Linked DNA regions of Homo sapiens: region 2 is linked to region 1. The links come from fine-mapping of genetic effects on gene expression. A gene starts in region 1. The other region holds a variant in brackets. All regions are shown on one strand. Distances are between the middles of the regions.

What was found.
Region 2: its variant is fine-mapped to the expression of ARL4C in monocytes (TOPMed, PIP above 0.99). The same link has a PIP of 0.9 or more in monocytes after interferon gamma.

Annotation. Positions count from the first base shown.
Region 1 is chr2:234,493,231-234,502,711 of GRCh38, reverse strand. ARL4C (ARF like GTPase 4C) reads left to right here and starts at 5,631. Exons shown (of 2, transcript NM_001282431.2): 1 at 5,631-6,700; 2 at 6,876-9,481. The coding sequence starts at 6,126. The coding sequence ends at 6,906. RefSeq lists an enhancer at 4,596-5,369 and silencers at 5,554-5,843, 5,954-6,053.
Region 2 is chr2:234,421,702-234,431,182 of GRCh38, reverse strand. No RefSeq gene overlaps it. Among named protein-coding and RNA genes, the nearest start is that of LINC01891, 28 kb to the left of the region's middle. RefSeq lists enhancers at 1-334, 2,306-2,877, 2,527-3,726. The variant G/A (reference allele first, on the strand shown) is at 5,063.

The DNA.
Region 1 (9,481 bases):
AAGCAGCAACGGGCCAAGGAGCTCTGTTCAGATGCTGTGCTGTATCCACACAGAGGATGGTTCTACAAAAGCCAACTGTTGTATTAAAGGGAAGAGTCATCCTGAGTGACCACACATTAGAGAGGGTGGCACTGGCAACACACCCCATCCTCCCTGCTGCACTGTAGAAAGCCAATAGGGTTTGACAGGGGCACAAAAGCGTGATTGTTTTCATCTCTCTGGGGTCCAGCCAAGTAAGCTTAATTAAATGAAAATAATAGCATTTCAGTTCACCTGCAGAGGTGGGAGAAGAGGAATGAAAGTAATCCAAGTTTCCATCAAATACTTCTTGGTTCATGGTGCAGCTCTCTAATCACCTGATATTTATTGTTAACTTGTTTTTTTTTTCCTTCACTGTAGCTATTAGAGTAGAAATTTAATTACTGTGATTGAATTATTAAAGGATTCAGAAATACCTTTTGCATACTAAGCCTTTTCTTCCCCCTGAACTGGAAGCTGGCACTAAGAACTTTTCTGTCACTTTGGTATGCCTGAGTGCTGACTTCCAAAGCTTTGAGTCTTAACATCCTTGACAAAGGTTCATTTAATACATGCCATGTAAATATTAGGGAGAGATGTAAAATAGTGTTATATAAGAATTATATTTGAAAATATTACTGATAGGAAAGATAATGGCTTCTATTTATTATTATTATTTTTTGAGATGGAGTTTCGCTTTTGTTGCCCAGGCTGGAGTGCAGTGGCGCGATCTTGGCTCACTGCAACCTCTGCCTCCCAGGTTCAAGCCATTCTCCTGCCTCAGCCTCAAGAATAGCTAGGATGACAGATGCCTGTCACCATACTCGGCTAATTTTTATATTTTTAGTACAGATGGGGTTTCACCATGTTGGTCAGGCTGGTCTCAAACTCCTGACCTCAGATGACCCTCCCACCTTAGCCTTCCAAAGTGCTGAGATTACAGATGTGAGCCACCATGCCCAGCCCAGATAATGGCTTCTAAAATTTTATATCTATCTCAGGAATGTAATAGAGATCGACAATTATTAAGGAAGACTTGAAGCGGGGGAGCCTTTTAGCTTTTTGATTTAAATTTTTTTTCTTGGAGAAAACAGCAACAACAACAACCATACAAAACACTAGCAGTGGTGATCATTGGGAAAATAAAAACCTGAATTGTTTCAGCCCTGTTGCTTAGCAAAATAAAAAATAAGGCACCCTGATTTTTTTTTCCTTAGAATTATAAACTTGAATGGCCAATAGAGTAGTGGATCTTTTTTATTTTCAGGCTTTGGACCACTTGAATGAAGCAGGAGCTTGCAGGCATCACAGATTTTCATTTATCTCCCCCCAGATCTACCGTCCCATCCACAAAACTTCCCTTGGCACCAGTGTCTTAGTGGCTTCCACTGTTACGTAGCCTGAGTCGGCGTTTCTCCTGGAGTTGAGGGGGTTGCACTGCAGTGATGGTGACTGGTTTGTCTAGCATGCCCTGGGGCTTCTGGAAGTATTGGTTTGGTTCTTCCTTAAGGAACCTCTCCTGACAGATAAAAGGCTTCAATCCTGGACCACCTGGCTTCAGGAGCTTCAGGCCTTGTCACTTTGTCTGCCAACTGGCCTCCTTCATTCTCGACTCCCAGCCCCATTCTCCATTTACAGCTGCTCATGCCTGCCTGCGAATTAGATGCAAAAATCAGTTTTCTTCCCTTCTCTGGTCTCAGCTGGGTTTCCTGGATGCTCTTTTCTGATCTCTTCCACCAATTGTGATTCTTTGAACAGTTCTCCTAGTAAAGCGACTTCCTGCTCTGCCAGGTTCCTGGCTCCCCTCTCCCAGCAGATAACCCACAGGTCTCACAGACAAGACCCACACTGGCATCAATGGCTCTGAGCTCTGAGCCCCAAGCAAAGCACCCATGGGCCCCTGGCACTTTCTCAGTTTAACCAGTAGGGCTCTATTCCTGCATCTCCATAGAGAGAAGAAAAGCAGGGGGTCACTTATCCATCATTCATTCCATAACTATGGACTGAACATTTGCTAAGCACTAGGCCAATGTGCCTCTGTAGAGCCCTTCATCTATTATCCGAGAAGCTCAGCAGAGGGCACTCCTGTATTATAACAGTTAAGCACCGGGGCAGTGAACCTGAACCCAGAGTTCCACAGCAGGTCTGCAGTGAGAACATGCAAATAACCCCACACTTATGCGCGCACGCGCGTGTGTGTATGTGTGTACACGTGTGCCCATGTTCTGGTCTTTATTTACTCATCATATTCAAGAATAAATGGGATGCTCCCTTTTGCATTTTAGGTTATTAGCCTTACTCAAGCAAAGATAATAATGCCATGATATATTGCTCATCGGATTCACTCAAAAGTCATTTTAATTGGTGGCACATTTTATTTCAAAGCCCTTAAAGGGAAAAAAAAGAGAATATTTTAGGATGCAATTTCAAAATTACTGCCAAGTTATTGCCTTCTGTTTGCTTGAAATAATTGAGTTCTTCTCTGGATGCAGTCATCTTGATGAAGAATAGAAAGGAGAGGACCTGAAATGTCACTGCTGCTGGAAGAGGAATTCATCTCAGGCAGACACAAGTACATGCTATTCTTTGAAAAAATCTCTCCTTCTGATTAATTAAAATGAAGTAAGTGCCACAGTGCAGCCAATATTTTCCACTCAGTGGAATTTAGCCATGATGTATGTCCATGAAGAAATAGGCTCAAAGTAGGCCTTACATGTCTGATATGAGTGGTAAACATTACCTTCCTTTTCATAATTCCAGTGTTTTTCAATAAAAATCCACATTTGAAGGAAAGTTACCAGTCGACTCAACCAAATGATATTTTTATGTGTTAGAAGTTAAATTATCAACTGTAAAATTAACTTATCACCTGGTGAGTGAAATTAGCAGGTAGAGTGGTTGCTATTCAATTATGGTGAGTTGCTGTTTAATGGCTGTGTTCTGGAAGGCTCTATTAATGTCTATTAATCTGTTTTTTCCTACTGGACAGCAGACAGCCCTTTATTGCTAAACCCCATCATGGTGGTGCAAAATGTGGAGGCTGCAGTCAAAACCACTGAGGCTCTTGGTAATAATTAGCATAGCACCAAAAAGATACATCGGATACTTTACTAAAATATCTCCTTCCTACCACCTTAAAACTTAAAGCAAGTCTTGACTAGGGGAAAAGGAAGTAACACAAAGGTAATCTGTGGAAGCCGGATGGAGAGGCTTCCAGTCTGATCTGTCTCTTTCCAAATGTCCAGGTCCCAGGCTACTAAACCAAAGGCTCATCTTGGGTTGGGGCTCAGCCTCGGCCCTGCCTGTGGCAGAGAAGAAAGAGAAACAAGAAACAGTCTCATGAGAAGCTGGCTATCTATGGGGCAGGCATTAAAGAGAGTCAAGAAAATCACTCCAAAAACACAAAATCCTGTCTCCCCAGGGTTCCCAATAACGGAAACATCATCATTATGAATTATGCCAACATATGTTGTTTCTGTTGCCTCACTAGAGTTGCTCTTTTGGTGACAGATCCTGGATTCTTCTTGGAGAACCACCCTTCCCGATTTCAACCCCTGGGCCACATCCACTGGTGTGTTCCCTCCTCCTGGACTGCAGTCCTTGATCCAGGGTGCGTGCTCCAGGCTTTGGTTAGAGTTACTGGGAAAGAGTTGTACCTTTTCCTTTCCAGGATCTAAACCAAGGATGTGAGTCCAAGGCTGCCAGAAGGAAAAAGAATCAACACAGGGGAACACGGAGGAGGACTGGAGAGACACCTGCTCGAAAGACTCCTTTTGAGCTCCTGGGTCTAGCCATGCCTGAAGAGGACCTTTATCCTTAACTTTTCAGTGATGTCAGTGAATACATTTCCATTTTTATTTAAAATGAAGTAAGTGGCACAGTGCAGCCAATATTTTCTGTTGAACTCTATCCTTCGGGTGGCTCACTTTATTCCTCATTGAAGGAAATAGCGTGTGGGTAGAGTGGGATGTGAGGAAGAGGGCAGGCAGGTGCCCAGTTTTGTGCATACAGACCCTTGGTCCTGGAGCAGGCAGTGGGCCTCTAGGTTCTGCCTTAGCCGTCACGGGCGCCTAGGCCTTGTTACCTCACTGGACAACGTTGGGTGGAATGATAGGCAGGGTCCTTTCCAGCCTGATACTTCGTTTCCAGCCCCAAATCCACTCAGTAGAGTGGATGGTCGCTCCGGCTGCCACCTTGGGAATTCCAAGGATAGGGGTGGTGGTGGCTTGTCCTTCCTTCTACAGGTGAGGTCTTCTCACATGCTTTGGTACCAACGATATCATATGTCTTTTCGTGGTTTGTGAACAGAAGGTGATAAAGTATTTCTCTAAAATTCTAGCTTTTATTCATAAATTCTTAGCATTTTCATTTTCTTCTCCCTTGACCCCGTTTCCGTCGTTTCTGTCTCATAAGCTAGAGCTGGGAAGATGCGGTCGCCCATGCTGCGGCCTGCTGTCTCCTGCGGAGCAGCTCTCCCCAGATCTGTGTGTTTGCCATAATATACTCTCACTTTTCTCCGCACCCAGAGAGGATATACATTTGTTACATGTTTACAAACCAGAATAAAACCATTGAACTGAGGTGACAGGAGGTGGAACCCGTGGAATATCAGTGTTTGTAACCCACTGCGCCACCAGCTCCAAGCTGTAGACACATTTTCTTTCAGCCCCCGGGGCTGGTGTTGCCATTTCTGCGGAGTAGTTCACCTGCGGGCAGGTGGTTCTCAGTTCCCAAAGTCGGGTGGCAAGGGGTGCTCTCCCGAAATGCTGACGCTTCCCCTGGGATGTCAGCAGAGTCGATGCGGACGAAATGAGGTAGCCCAGGCGTGTCTGGGAGGGTGAGCTGTCCGAGCTACTTGGGGCAGGTAGGTCTTCTAATCCCCCATCGCGGCCTAGGTCCGACCCTGCCCCAACCGCCGCCACCGGGCAAGAAAGGCTGGGCCTCCAGGGTGCCCTGGGCACAGGCCTGGGCTCCGGAGGGCGGCGCTGGCCGGGTGCAGCCCCCTGGAACCCAGGCAGGAGGCGAGCCTGGGCGTCACTGGGGGCCGGGGCCGGCGACAGCCGCGGCGCGAGGGTGGGAGGGGACGCGCCCGGCTGGATCCAGAGCGCAGGCTGGCAGCTCACCGAGGCCAGCCCCGTCCCGTCCCTTCTGGGGTTTGGAGGCCCCAGCCTCGCCGCCCTCACTCCCCAGAGCGGCGCTCTCCCAGTCACCCTGGGGGCCGCCCTGCCCCGCCTCGCGCCCACAGAGCTGGGACCCCGGGACCCACTCCCTCAGGCAGGCTGCGTCGCCCACGGCTGCGGCCCGGAGGGGCAGGGGGCGGGCTAGGACCCGGGCGGGGATTCCGGGAGCCGAGAGCTATTTTTGCAAACGCGTCAGCCGCTGGGGAGGAAGAGCCGGCTCCGCGCCCATTGTGTCTGCGCGGCGCGGCGCGGGAGGGGCCGGGGGGCGGCGGGGGGCGGCGGGGACGCAGCGAAGCGCGCGAAAACGGCCGGCTGGGCGGGGAGGACCGCGCCTGACCCCCGGCGGCGGGCGGGGCGGGGCCCGGGGCGGGTCCGGGGGCGGGTCCGGGGCGGGGCGCGAGGGGGCGGGTCCGGGAGCTCTCCGGCCGCTGCAGGCTGGCGGCTGCTGCGGCGGCGCGGGGACTGTGAGGCTGCCGAGCGGACAGCGACTCCCGGGGAAGCCCGCGCTCCGGGAGCGGGAGCGGGAGCAGGAGCAGGAGCAGCGCCGTCCCAGGCCAGAGGCGAGCGCCGGGCGCCGGGAGAGCGGAGAGCCCGGGCAGCTGCCGGAGCGCGGGGGCGCGGCCCGAGGAAACCACAGAGCGAGCCCAGGCCTGGGGAGGGCGCCGAACATCTGAGGCGGCTTCGCGGGAGACAAAGCCGCGCGTAGAGACGCGATGCCCGCCGATCGCGAGCCCGGCCGGCGAGGGCGCGGGGACTGCGGCGTCTGAGCGCGCCAAGCCGTGCGCCCGCGGGGACGCCGAGCCCCGGGGCCGGTGCGGGCGGCGGCGGGCGGGGCCCAGGTGCGCCCGGCCGCGTCGGGCCCGTGACTGCTCGGGGGGCGGCGCCCTCCCGCCGCAGCCGCAGTGGCTGGCGCCGCAGCCAGGAGCCATGGGCAACATCTCCTCTAACATCTCGGCCTTCCAGTCCCTGCATATCGTCATGTTGGGCTTGGACTCGGCCGGCAAGACCACGGTGCTCTACCGGCTCAAGTTCAACGAGTTCGTGAACACGGTGCCCACCATCGGCTTCAACACCGAGAAGATCAAGCTGAGCAACGGCACGGCCAAGGGCATCAGCTGCCACTTCTGGGACGTGGGCGGCCAGGAGAAGCTGCGGCCGCTGTGGAAGTCCTACAGCCGCTGCACGGACGGCATCATCTACGTGGTGGACTCGGTGGACGTGGACCGGCTGGAGGAGGCCAAGACGGAGCTGCACAAGGTGACCAAGTTCGCCGAGAACCAGGGCACGCCGCTGCTGGTCATCGCCAACAAGCAGGACCTGCCCAAGTCGCTGCCGGTGGCAGAGATTGAGAAGCAGCTGGCGCTGCACGAGCTTATCCCGGCCACCACCTATCACGTCCAGCCGGCGTGCGCCATCATCGGCGAGGGCCTCACCGAGGGCATGGACAAGCTCTATGAGATGATCCTGAAACGCAGGAAGTCCCTCAAGCAGAAGAAGAAGCGGTAATGCGCCCGGAGCGACCGGGGAGCGAGCGAGTGCGTCAAGAAAGAATGAATGGATGGATGGATGGTTGGATGGATGGATGGATGGATGAGCGAGAACCCGCGCCCGCGAACAAAGAGCGAACCAAAGCGATGCTTCGAATTTTTAAAACGGAATCTCTGCACCCAAATGCAGGACTGGTGACTTAAGGAGCTGCGAAGTCTGATTTACCGGCCTACTCTCGACCTGCCCCCCACCCCCAGCTCAGGGGACCTTTTGTCTGAACGCCAGAGCTACTGACCAGGTCGGGGGGCCGCGGTGGGGAGTGGAAGAGCCGGTCCTGCTGTCCGCCCTCCCAGCCCCAGGTGGAAGGCTCAGTTGTCGGAAAGACAAAAGCGATTTCTTCCCACTCCTGCAGGGCCAGAAGTTCAGGCTGCCCCGCCTCCACTGGGGGATCGCACCTGTGAATTACCTGAGGTATGCATTTCCCAGAACCGTGGGCGTACCCACCTTGGGGGGCATGTTGGTTCTGGGGGGACCACCTCTCCTTGCATTCAGGGGCTGTGAAGCTGAGTAATTTTCGGTCACAGGGCAGGCCCCTGTTGAAATTTCATTTGTCCTGCTCTGGGCCCAAAGGTGGTGGTGGTTTGGGTCATCAGAGGACTGCCTGGGACGGTTCAGCGGGCACGGAGCGCTGTGCTGGCCTGGCTGGGGATGGCCGCGGAGGTGCCCTTTTCCTGGTGCTTTGTGGTGGCTGCAGAAGACCAGTTTTGTTGAGAACTGCTTTTCAGCCTGGAATCAGACATCTTCCAGATGGTTTGGACCCTGTCCATGTGTAGGTCATTATCACACAAAGAGACCAATAAAAATAAAAAAAATAAAAAAAAAAAAAGACGAACTATTGGAGGTGGTGGCCAATGATGCATTTACTGTTTGCAGGATAGTTAAAGGTGTTTAAAGGGTAAGGCTTTTGGTGTAAATGCTGGATGGGGTGTGTGTGTGTGTGGATATAGGGACCTCCCTCTGTACTGTGTACTGTGTAATCGGCATTAATACCTAGACTCATATGTATGGAATTTTAAATTCTCTTAGCCTACTGATTGGTTTGGATGAGCACACCAGCTGCAGGTGTGTGCTGAATTGCAAGATGGTATTTTTTTTTTTAACCAAGGGATGTCTCTTGTAATACTAACCGCGTGATAATGGGTTTTCAGACATGATGAAAAAAAAAAACTTTTACAAATGAATACTTACCTTAGAAATATTCACCTTAGGAAAAAAGACTTTGCTCTGCCCTTTTATATTCCTTTATGCTGCAAGTGGTGACATGTTCAGATTTCTAATTTGGTTCATTGTGGCCTATCTGGTTTAAGTCTTTCATTAAAAATGTCTCGTTAGAGTATTTGATGTCATGCACCAAAAAAATAAAACCCCACCTTGTTGCAAAAGCTGACCTCGTTGCATGGAATTAAAAGAGAAGGAAAAACACAAGGATGAAGTCTTTCCGAATTCATTCTTGTGGGAACTGGCCTTCGGAGCCAGCCAGCACTTTGGGCAAATGCAAACAACAATGAGTGCTTGAGATAAAAGAAAGTGTGACGTCATGGTCACTGGTACTCAGGCACTTCACAGTTTACTTGAAAGAGGCTTTGGAAAATAGATAAAGTGAAAGAAGAATAAATACATATTTTTAATAATGTAATTTTAAAAATCCTTTATAATCAGGACTGAGTCTTGGTTTGCAGAAGCTGTCACTTACCCTGAAACACAGTATCAAAAGGGAAACTTAAAACATACTGTTTGATTTTTTTATTTCCTCTTACAATCCATGTTTTCAGGTAGAATTATGACTTTCCCCCCATTGTTACACATTTCTTTACAAAGGAGGCCTGTAGAAATTGGACACGATCATGCTTGAGCATGTGAGTTAGTCAAATTATGAGTCCCTGCCTATTGTCCATTACACACCGAATGTTAATTTAAGAACCAGAGGCAGAAGTTCTGGCTTCCTGCTTGAAACCCAATTCTTATATGAAATTTTTTAAAAGCAGAAACCTAGCAGCCCATCTGCTTTTTCTCTTTTGTCGGTGTATTTGGTACCCCTCCAATGCTGGTCTTTTTGTAGAAACTCAGTAGAGAAAGTCTAGCTAAGCAGTGTTGAAAAGCCTGCAAGATTTCAGTTTACATATCGACAGCATATCCACTGATTTCTAAATGGGCTGGTCCCATCATCTGAAGATTCTGTATAGAATTATTAAAAAAAAAATCCATCTTTCTTTATTTTCTTCACATGCGACAATTTCTTAAGCACTTTGACATTTTGGTAGTTCCACACTATTGAGAGAATAATATATTTATTTTGTGACATTGCAGATGCCAAATACTGTAACCTTCTCATGATAACAATACTTAGGTTCAAGATCACTGTTCAAACCCTGTCATGCTTTAAAACTGATGCGAGATGATTTTGTTTTTTGCATAATCAATACTTAAGGGTGCAATCAACTGTTAGTAATTGTGCAGTAAAGTAAAGCCCTGTGGTGTATCAACTACTAGTTAAGAGTCTCAGTTGATTTCTGTAATGTTTGACCTAATAATAGCCCGTTTCGTCTCTGACCCAACAGAGGAAGCACAGATCAAATCACCTTGGAGTGGTCACCAGGGGGACAGGGAGCCCCCCACCAATGTATCAATGGGTGATTTATGATGCCTTCTGCCCTTTGGCGAGTGAATGGGTTTCCCATAGGGGAAGTTGGCCTCCCTCCGTGAGCTTTGGAAATGTTTTCTAATAGACACAGGGA
Region 2 (9,481 bases), 72 kb after region 1:
GTGAAAGATCTGAAAGAAACATTCATCATCTATTCTCTCTGAGAGCTGCTACCTGTGAGGTTTCATCTACATAACAAGACCACCTTTGTCAGCCAGTCCTCCTCTTCTCCTCCTCCCATCATCTGTCTTGCCAATAGAACATGATTGACTACCATAATTGTTTTTTGGCCATGCTCTGAGCCTCCATTCATTCTGTAACCTCAAGATGGTATATTTAAGCTTCTGTACTTTGTTGGGGGTGGGCTCTTTATTCTGAGGGCTCCTGTGTATACACACGTTGAATAACTTTGTATGCCTTTTCTCCTATTAATCTGCCTTTTTTTTCAGACAGAGTCTTGCTGTGTCGCCCAGGCTGGAGTGCGCTGGCCTGCTCTCGGCTCACTGCAACCTCTGAATCTGTCTCTCTGGTTCAAGGGATTCTCATGCCTCAGCCTCCTGAGTAGCTGAGATTACAGGCACACACCACCACGTCCAGCTAATTTTTGTATTTTTAGTAGAGACAGGGTTTTGCCATGTTGGCCAAGCTGGTCTTGAATTCCTTACCTCAACTGATCTGCCCACCCCAACCTCTCAAAGTGCTAGAATCACAGGTTTGAGCCACAGTGCCCGGCCTTAATCTGTCTTTTGCGAGTTGATTTTTCAGTGAAACTTCAGAGGGCCAAAGGTTTCGCTTTGGCCCCTACAACATATATGCAAGCAATAATTATTTTGCATCTTTAATCCAGATCATTATTAACTTTAATTTTTGGAGTCTGCTTAATAGTGATGAAAACTTCCAAGAAAATTCTGATGGTCAGAGTGAAAAAAGATTAATGTGGGATTTTACTGGATATTTTTCTAACATTCATGCATGATTATGACCAAGATTATGGTTTTCATAATGAGGTTACTATGCCACATGTATATACTTTTTTTTTGTTTGTTTGTTTGAGGCAGTGTCTCACTCTATTGCCCAGGCTGGAGTGCAATGGCATGAACTCAGCTCACTGCAGCCTCCACCTCCCAGGTTCCAGCAATTCTCCTGCCTCAGCCTCCTGAGTAGCTGGGATTACAGGCATGTGCCACCACACCCAGCTAATTTCGTATTTTTTGTAGAGATGGGGTTTCACCATGTTGATCAGGCTAGTCTCGAACTCCTCACCTCAGGTGATCCGCCCGCCTCGGCCTCCCAAAGTGCTGGGATTATAGGTGTGAGCCATCGTGCCCGGCCTATCTATATAATTTCTAATATTATCCTTCCTTCTCTGATGTAAACCAAGTAGAACAGTGGGCACCAAAGCACAGTGCATGGCCTAGCCCCTTCATTGACGGAGGGATGGAGAGCAAGTCACTTCTCTCCTGTAGCTGGGGAGATAAAACAGGGAAGACCAAGAGGACTCAGGGCAGGCAGGCCTGGAAGCCTACTGAGGAATAACAGTAATTATACTCAGCATTAATATTATGTATTGAGTTCTTCCTACACATAACGCTAAGTGCTTTACAGATCTGATCGCTGAAACAGCCCTGTGAGGTGGGCATCCTTATCTCCAGTGTACAGAGAAGAATCTGAGGCTCAAAGAGGCTGAATCATGGCCCCACGTTGGAACAGTCCTTGGAGGCAAGAGCACAGCTAAGTGCAGGCCTGCCTGGATCTCCAGCTCAGCTGTCAGACTATGCAAAAGGCCTCCAAAAGAGAACAGAGGCTTTGTGTTTGCACGTGGACTAGCACAGCTCACCAGGATCAAAGGCCAAGGAGTCTCTGGCAGGGATTAGGCCATCCCCCACCTACCAGCAGGTATTCCCAGGAAACCATTGAGGAAGCAGGAGACAGCCAGGCCAAGCCGGCCCATCGAAGGGCAGACATGCTAGAGTCTCTGTTCTTTGGAAGGCACAAGCAAAGCGAGCCTGTCACCTGCTGACTTGGAGGAGAAAGGGAGAGAGGAACCCAGATAGTGTGGAGGCTGCAGTGGATCCACTTAGTGGGCGATACGTGTCTCTCCAAGGGGGCTACATTTGGAAGGGGCCACAGTGCAGCGGGCGAGAGTGCTGCATTTCTGTGTGATGAGTTTGAGGCAGGCATCCACATAGACTTGTACCAGAGGCACCTGAAGATGCAGACAGGGAACTGGGACACAGGTTTCCATAAGGATGAGGATGGATGAGGATGTTTCTTCCCGCCCAAGTCTAGTCCCCTCCACCTCCCACCATTTGGCCTCAGAGGGCCAGCTTCCTGAAAATAATTTCCAAACGGACCCTGACCCACTCTTTCTTAGTCCTTGCCTTCAAGAATGTGGGGACCATCTGTGTCAGGCCAGAGTCTACAGTGACGGATGTTGTGATTTGTTGCTCCAGGAACGGGGCTGCATGTGGAAGCCCTTGCTGGTTTCTGTGTTGAGCGGTTTACTGCAAAGTTAGCTCTTACCTCCCATGCTCAAAGGCGATCGACCAGCTTGAAGTGGACTGATGACTATTTAACCTCTTAATAGACTTCAGACGGACAACGGGCTTTCCCTGAATACCTGGCACACGGGGAATATGCTGTGAAATTTGCTGAGTGAGTGAGTGGGCAAATGAAAACATGGTCTCCTTCTACTTCCAGTTTGAAAGGAAGTTAATCTAACTCGGGTGGTGTCCATGAGATGTGAGCATGCCTCTCTGTGCTTTCAAAAGTTCCACAAAACAGGTCAGGCACGGTGCTCACGCCTGTAATCCCAGCACTTTAGGAGGCCAAGGCGGGCGGATCACCTGAGTTCAGGAGTTCAAGACCAGCCTGGCCAACATGGCGAAACCCTGTTTGTACTAAAATTACAAAAATTAGCCGGGAGTGGTGGTGGGCGCCTGTAATCCCAGCTACTTGGGAGGCTGAGGCAGGAGAATCGCTTGAACCCGGGAGGCAGAGATTGCAGTGAGCCGAGATTGCGCCACTGCACTCCAGCTTGGGTGACGGAGCGAGACTCCGTCTCAAAAAACAGCAACAAAGAAACCTTCCACAAAACAAATCCTAAATTGGATTCTATGTCTCCAACAATAGGGAAATGATTAAGTAAATAACGGAAAGAGTTATACAACATTTTTTCAGGAATTTTTAGTGACAGTTAAAAACTTATTAAGTAAAAAAGTCAAGAAATAGATTTTAAATTACACTCTGATATCAAGTATGTAAAACACTTATGCTGAGAAAAAGACTGGATATAGCAGAAGGGTGGTCACCGATAAGGGGTGAGGCTTCCGGAGGATCGTGCGAAGTTTTCTGGGTACTTCCTGGTGTGACGCTGCATAGTGATGTGGTGAAAATGGCAAGTTCCTGGAGGGCTTGAGGTGGGTGGAAGTTTGCATTCTCAGGGAAATGCTTGGAATAGTCGTTGATTGGATGGTTCTCTACATTCTTCAGATTCCTCTGCAGAGTGCATTTCTTTCTCCCTCTCTCAAAGTGTGGATTAAATTGTTTTGAGCTGGTTTTGTCTGCAGCAATTAGTTATCTTAACTAAAGCTCATAAAAAAACAACAACAGAAAGGTAACATGAATGAAGGCCATGTCCTAAAGTTGTACAGGAAACAGACTAGGGAGCAGAGAAACGGGTGTGGGGCGGAGGGGAAAGGAAGGTGGGGGTGGAAGGTGGGGTGGAGGAGTCCAGCCTTCCCTTCCAGCAAACAGTAAGCAGCTTTGAGAAATGGGGAGGGGGCAAACTGATCTGAAATGAAGAGGATGGCCTCAAGGATGGCCCAGCTAGAGAGAGACCCACCATAAGTACTGCTCTAAAACCTTGGCCACTCCAGCTCTGGCCCCGCCATCAGCAACTGCTGGGTGTGTTAGAGACCCAGGCTCTCAAGCCCCAGCCCCAGGGCCCCAGAGCCTGCTTGTCAAAGGATTCTCCCTCGGTGAATTTGTGTGCATCAAATGAGTTTGATGCAACCCTTTCTGAGAGAGGGGGTTTCAGGCTCTGCCTGCCTGGAGGGTGAGAGGAAGTGGCAGCTCAGAAAAATCTAGAAGGGAGAGACGGGGGTCAGAGGATTTGCCGGACAGCCTGGCACCCAGAAGCAGCAGTGGCTGGCTCATGGTGCAACCCAGGGAGCCATGTGGACGATGGGGTCGATTGTTGACATCAGCACTGAGACGAACCCACCCAGCCTCATGTTAAACAATCAAATCTTAAATGATTGAGAGGTGCTTCACACTAATCTTGGCTCTTGAACAGTGGGGGCTGTTCCATAGGCTCAGTGTAATCAAGAATCATTCTTGCTCTGCTTCCGAGGGAGAAGGCGTTCACCTCTGCATTAATTTCAGCTGTGTGGGGAGACGTGCTCCCTGAATTTGGTTCCATCCTGAGTGGGAGGGTTGCTAGTCTCAGAAGCCTCTTCTAAGTTTCTCTTTTGACATCTGCTTTGGGCAACAACATGGCCACTGCTTCCTAGAGAAATGGGAAGAGAAACCCTCACAGTTCAGAGGGTGAGAGTGGCTGATCCCTCCCCCATCTGTTGACACTCCTGGAAACTTTTGGGGACTTCTGGGGATGGGGCAGAGGGGCCTATTGCAGAGGGTACATCTTCCCACAGGTTAGATGTTGACGCTCCAGCTGCCCCTGGCCACCGATGGCAGATGATTTCCTGAGCCAAGGATCCTTTCTTGGATTCTGGGTCTCCCTCACTTAGGAAGTAGAAGAGAAACTTTCATTTCCAAAGTGTTACTCTGCCATGAAATCCATCAATGTGGAGTGGCAGAACAGAGAGCTCAGCAGTTCCATTATCTGATGGAGCTCAGACAGTGCAGAAAAACAAAGTGTTTCCCTTCTCAGTGTGTGTGTGTGTGGCTTTTTTTTTTTGGGGGGGGGGTGGTCATTGTTAAACTGACACAAGGTGACCTGATAGGGGAAGGAAGATCTGTGATTCATTAACACTCTCTCCCTTCATCTTTGTAATCGTCATCATTTTCATTTCTTCCAGCAGTCTCAGGACCTGCCTCCAAAGGCAGGTCCTGAGGGTTCACAAGAAACCTAGAGCTGGGCGAGCTTGCTTCCCTCCTGCTGGGTTCAGCCCTAACTGCCTCTTCCTCAGCCCCGCCCTGCACACCTGCAGTTAGGGCACC[G/A]AGGCAGCCCTAACGCTTCTGAGGAAGTGGGTTTTGTGGGTAGGTGGAGTTCTATGTCCCAGAGGGTGAGGAACTGGGCACCACACCCATCCCTGTATGCAGTGGGTAGAGTGGCCTAGAGGGCCAAACCTGGGAGGAGGGTAGGGAGGACCCTCTCTGGCCCATCCTCTGCTTCTTCCCGCATGCCCCTGAGGGCTGCGTTGATGTCCTCATTTCCATATAACTCCAGTGACACAGAAGCTCCTTGTGAAGTGAGCTTTCCTGCCTAATTGAAAGACACCAGCAGAACATGACTCAGGGTGGCAGTCGTCCTGCCCTGGCACTAGGCAGGTCACCCAAACCTCCTTGTTCCTCCAGATGAAGATGCTAAAGCCTGGCCAGGTGAAAGAGGAAGAGGCAGGTCACCCAAACCTCCTCATTCCTCCAGAAGAAGATGCTAAATCCTGGCCAGGTGAAAGGGGAAACTCAACCCCAAGGAGTCAGGTCCAAAGGGACGGGTCCCCAGGGACTAACTGGGACAGGGGTCTGAAGGGACCACCAGCAGGTCAACCCACCCACCAGCCTCACCCGTGCTGTGTCCCCAGACATGAAGCCAAGAGAGCAAGTTCCCTAAATTCCCTTCCCACCTCTGCCACGACCAGCTGGGTCTTATAGTCACTCCCTGCCCGGCCTCATTCCCAATAAAACCCAACCACCAGGGGCCCCGCCACTGGCTACCACTTAGCTCGCTCTCACCCCCATCCCTGTGACCTCCCCCAGAATCTCCTATGGCTTTTCCCACCACCCTCCAACCATTACCAGTGAGGCTTGGGCCCAGGGTGTGTCCGGGCCTCTCTTGCCACCCACCACCCTTCATCTTTGTAGCCCGCTTTCCTGCAAGAGGGAATTCTCTCTTCCCATTACAACAGGGCCTGTGGCTTGAGCACCCAGGGTGCATGTGTACAGACTTGGGGAGCAGGGGCTCAGCTCCAGGCACTTCTAGGACCCTGGACCCTGAAATTTATATAGTGTTCCTTTATCTGGTAGCTCATGTCACTCATTAAGAGTTGTTCCATTTCTGGTGGGGTGCGGTGGTTCACGCCTGTCATCCCAGCACTTTGGGAAGCCGAGGCAGGCAGATCACCTGAGGTCAAGATGAGCCTGGCCAACATGGTGAAACCCATCTCTACAAAAATACAAAAATTAGCTGGGCATGATGGCAGGTGCCTGTAATCCCAGCTACTCAGGAGGCTGAGGCAGGAGAATCGCTTGAACCCGGGAGGCAGAGGTTGCAGTGAGCCGAGATCGCGCCATTGCACTGAGCAACATGACTAAGCAAGACTGTCTCAAAAAAAAAAAAAAAAAGAGTTGTTCCATTTCCTAATTTTGAAGGGTTTCATTTTACAAAGATTTGGAATGTGTATTTCTCCCAGAACAATAATTTCTTTTTATTTGTTGAAATGGTGTAAGCAGAAGTGTCATGCTAAATGTCTGTACATGGTTTCCATTCTCTTATGTAAACTCCATTTTTATAAATAGAGAATTCAATTTGATTCAACTTTAAACAGATGCTACAGTTAATTTTGAGCAATTGTTAATATGTGTGGGAACATGCTTTGAAAATAAGTCCGTGATCCCAATCTGTGCTCTGAGTGTTTTCATTGAATTGAGCACAGAAGTCCAATTCTGGAGAGATGAAAACACAACAAAGCCAAGATGATTTGAAACTGGCCTTATCTAAAGTTTTGTTCCTTTAAAAAATCAAAACGTCATTTATTTTCCTTCCACCCCAGCCCCCGTCTTCCCAGCTTTGATCTTTCTACTTGTCAGAATATTGCATCAATGACACTGGAAATATTTATTCAACAAATACCTATTAAGCCCCAATTAGAGGCTGGATGTTGCATTTGGTCCTGAAAATTAGACAAATACGTTCCCTGTTCTCAAGGAGCTTATAGGCCTGGGTAAGGTAATTGCAGACACCTGAAGTATAACATACACCTGAAGACTCTAACAGGGACACCTATCTCCCGAAAGGATCGAGGCATGGCCCTCCAATTAGGTTGACTTCAAAGTGTGAGGGGAGCCCAGGGGATTTCCAGTCCTAGGAAAAACCTTCACAGCCACCAAGAACTTTCATGTTTTAGTTTTCAATTAAGCCCTTTCCTTACATAAATTTTCTTCTGGATTCAAAGTCATTCAAAATGATGATTCACTCTACCTGGCAAAATATGCCGTCTTTAAAATTATTAATATAATTGTATCAGTTTTCTATTGCTGCTGTAGCAAATTACCACAAATGTGGTGCTTAAAACAAACCAAATTTATTATCTTAGAGTTCTGAAGGTCAGAAGTCTGGCATGAGCTAAAATCAAGGTGTTGGCAGGGCTGTGTGTCCTTTTAATATTTTTTATTTTTGGTGGCCTTAACAGAGGGTTGATATTTTGTCACATCTCATCGACCTGTCTATTATTATTATTATTTTTTGGTGGGGGATGGGGACAGGGTCTCGCTCTGCACTACAGGCTGCAGTGCAGACAAAATTGTGGCATGGCTCACTGCAACCTCAACCCCCCTGGGCCCAAGTGATCCTCCTACTTCGGCCTTCTGAGTAGCTGGGACCCCAGACATGCACCACCATGCCTGGTTAGTTTTTTATTTTTGTAGAGTCAAAGTCTTACTATCTTGCCCAGGCTGGTCTCAAACTGCTGGACTCAAACAATCCTCCACCTCAGCCTCCCAAAGTGCTGGGATTACAGGTGTGAGTCACCGCGCCCGCCCACCTGTCTCTTCTGCCTCCTTCCGCATTTAAGGGCCCTAGTGATGGTACACCTGCATAACCCAGGTGATTTCCCTATTTTAAGGTCAACTGATTGACAACCCTAATTCCAGCTACAAACTTAATTCTTTACCATGTCATATAACACATTCATAGGTTCCTGAAATTAGGACATGGACATCTTTTGGGGGCAGGGTGGGGGGATGCCATTATCCTGCCATCTACAAGAATATAGTTGTAATTATGTGACGTGCTGACCTCCTGTCTCAGCATCATGCTGTGCGGTGCAGACCTGAAGCTGTGAGCACACACCCTGTTGACGGAAGCAGCCGCTCTCCTATGTGATGAGGCTGTGGTTATCATTCTCCTCATCCTGATACCTCTTTTCTCTCACTGGGGATCCCTGCCAGCTTCTGCAACACAAAACTTCATTTTTATCTCCTAGTCTATTTGTTTTGTTCCCTAATAATGTCGGGTTTTTTTCTATGGTTTCTAAAATTCTTGCCACTGTTCAGCCATTTTTATACTTCTTGGAACTTTTTGAATTTTGAATAAGTAAATAAATGCTCAAATATGCATCAAACTCTGTAAATAAACAGAAGCAATTACAAGTTTTAGAAATAGTCTTATGCATTATGGTAAACTCAAACTCAGTGACGTGTTTGAAGTTACTTGTCATAGAATTCCTCAGCTCAGATTTAAGCTCAATTCACATATACAGTCCCTACCTTCTGGTTAATGTCAACATTCATGAATAGGCGTGGCCTTTGCAGGAGTGAGCTCAGGGAACCATGCTCCATGAAGCTCAGGGAAGCATACCTGAGTGTCCTATGCATGGATGACAAAAATCATTCCTTCCTTCCTAACATAATTGACCTTTACACTTTATGAGTAATGGTTACATGAAAAACACACCCAGCTGAAGCTTGGGGAAATATATCATGACTCACTCATCCATTCCACAAATACTAATGCAAGCTGTTGGCATGCTTGTATCTTAATATCAGGGCCACGTGCTTCTTTGCTGTCCGGGCTCTATCTGATCTCAAGGAACAGAGACAGCATGGCAGAGGTTACCATAGTTAATGGTGTTCAGCTTGTTTATCTTAAAGATATCTACAGGTAGAAAGAAAAAAAAAAAGGAAACCAGTATAAATGCTCCTGTAGAGGCTGCACACAGTAGAAATCAGTCCAACCTCATATAAACTGATTGACATATAGGCTTAAAGTTGGTCCTCATAACCCAGTTATCATGGGAAGCCACAGAAGTCCATGTCTCCTGCTTGCTATCTGAGCACACTTCCATTTAGATGAGTTGGTACTCGCCGGGTGCGGTGGCTCATGCCTGTAACCCCAGCACTTTGGGAGGCTGAGGCAGGTGGATCACGGGGTCAGGAGTTCGAGACCAGCCTGACCAACATGGTGAAACCCTGTCTCTACTAAAAATACAAAAATTAGCCAGGTGTGGTGGCGCTCACCTGTAATCCCAGCTACTCAGGAGGTTGAGGCAGGAGAATCCCTTGAACCTGGGAGGCAGAGGGTGCAGTGAGCACGGAGATCACACCACTGCACTCCAGCCTGGGCGACAGAGTGAGATTCCATCTCAAAAAAAAAAAAATGACTTGGCAATCCCCTATCTTCACTTCTGCATGTGCCACTAC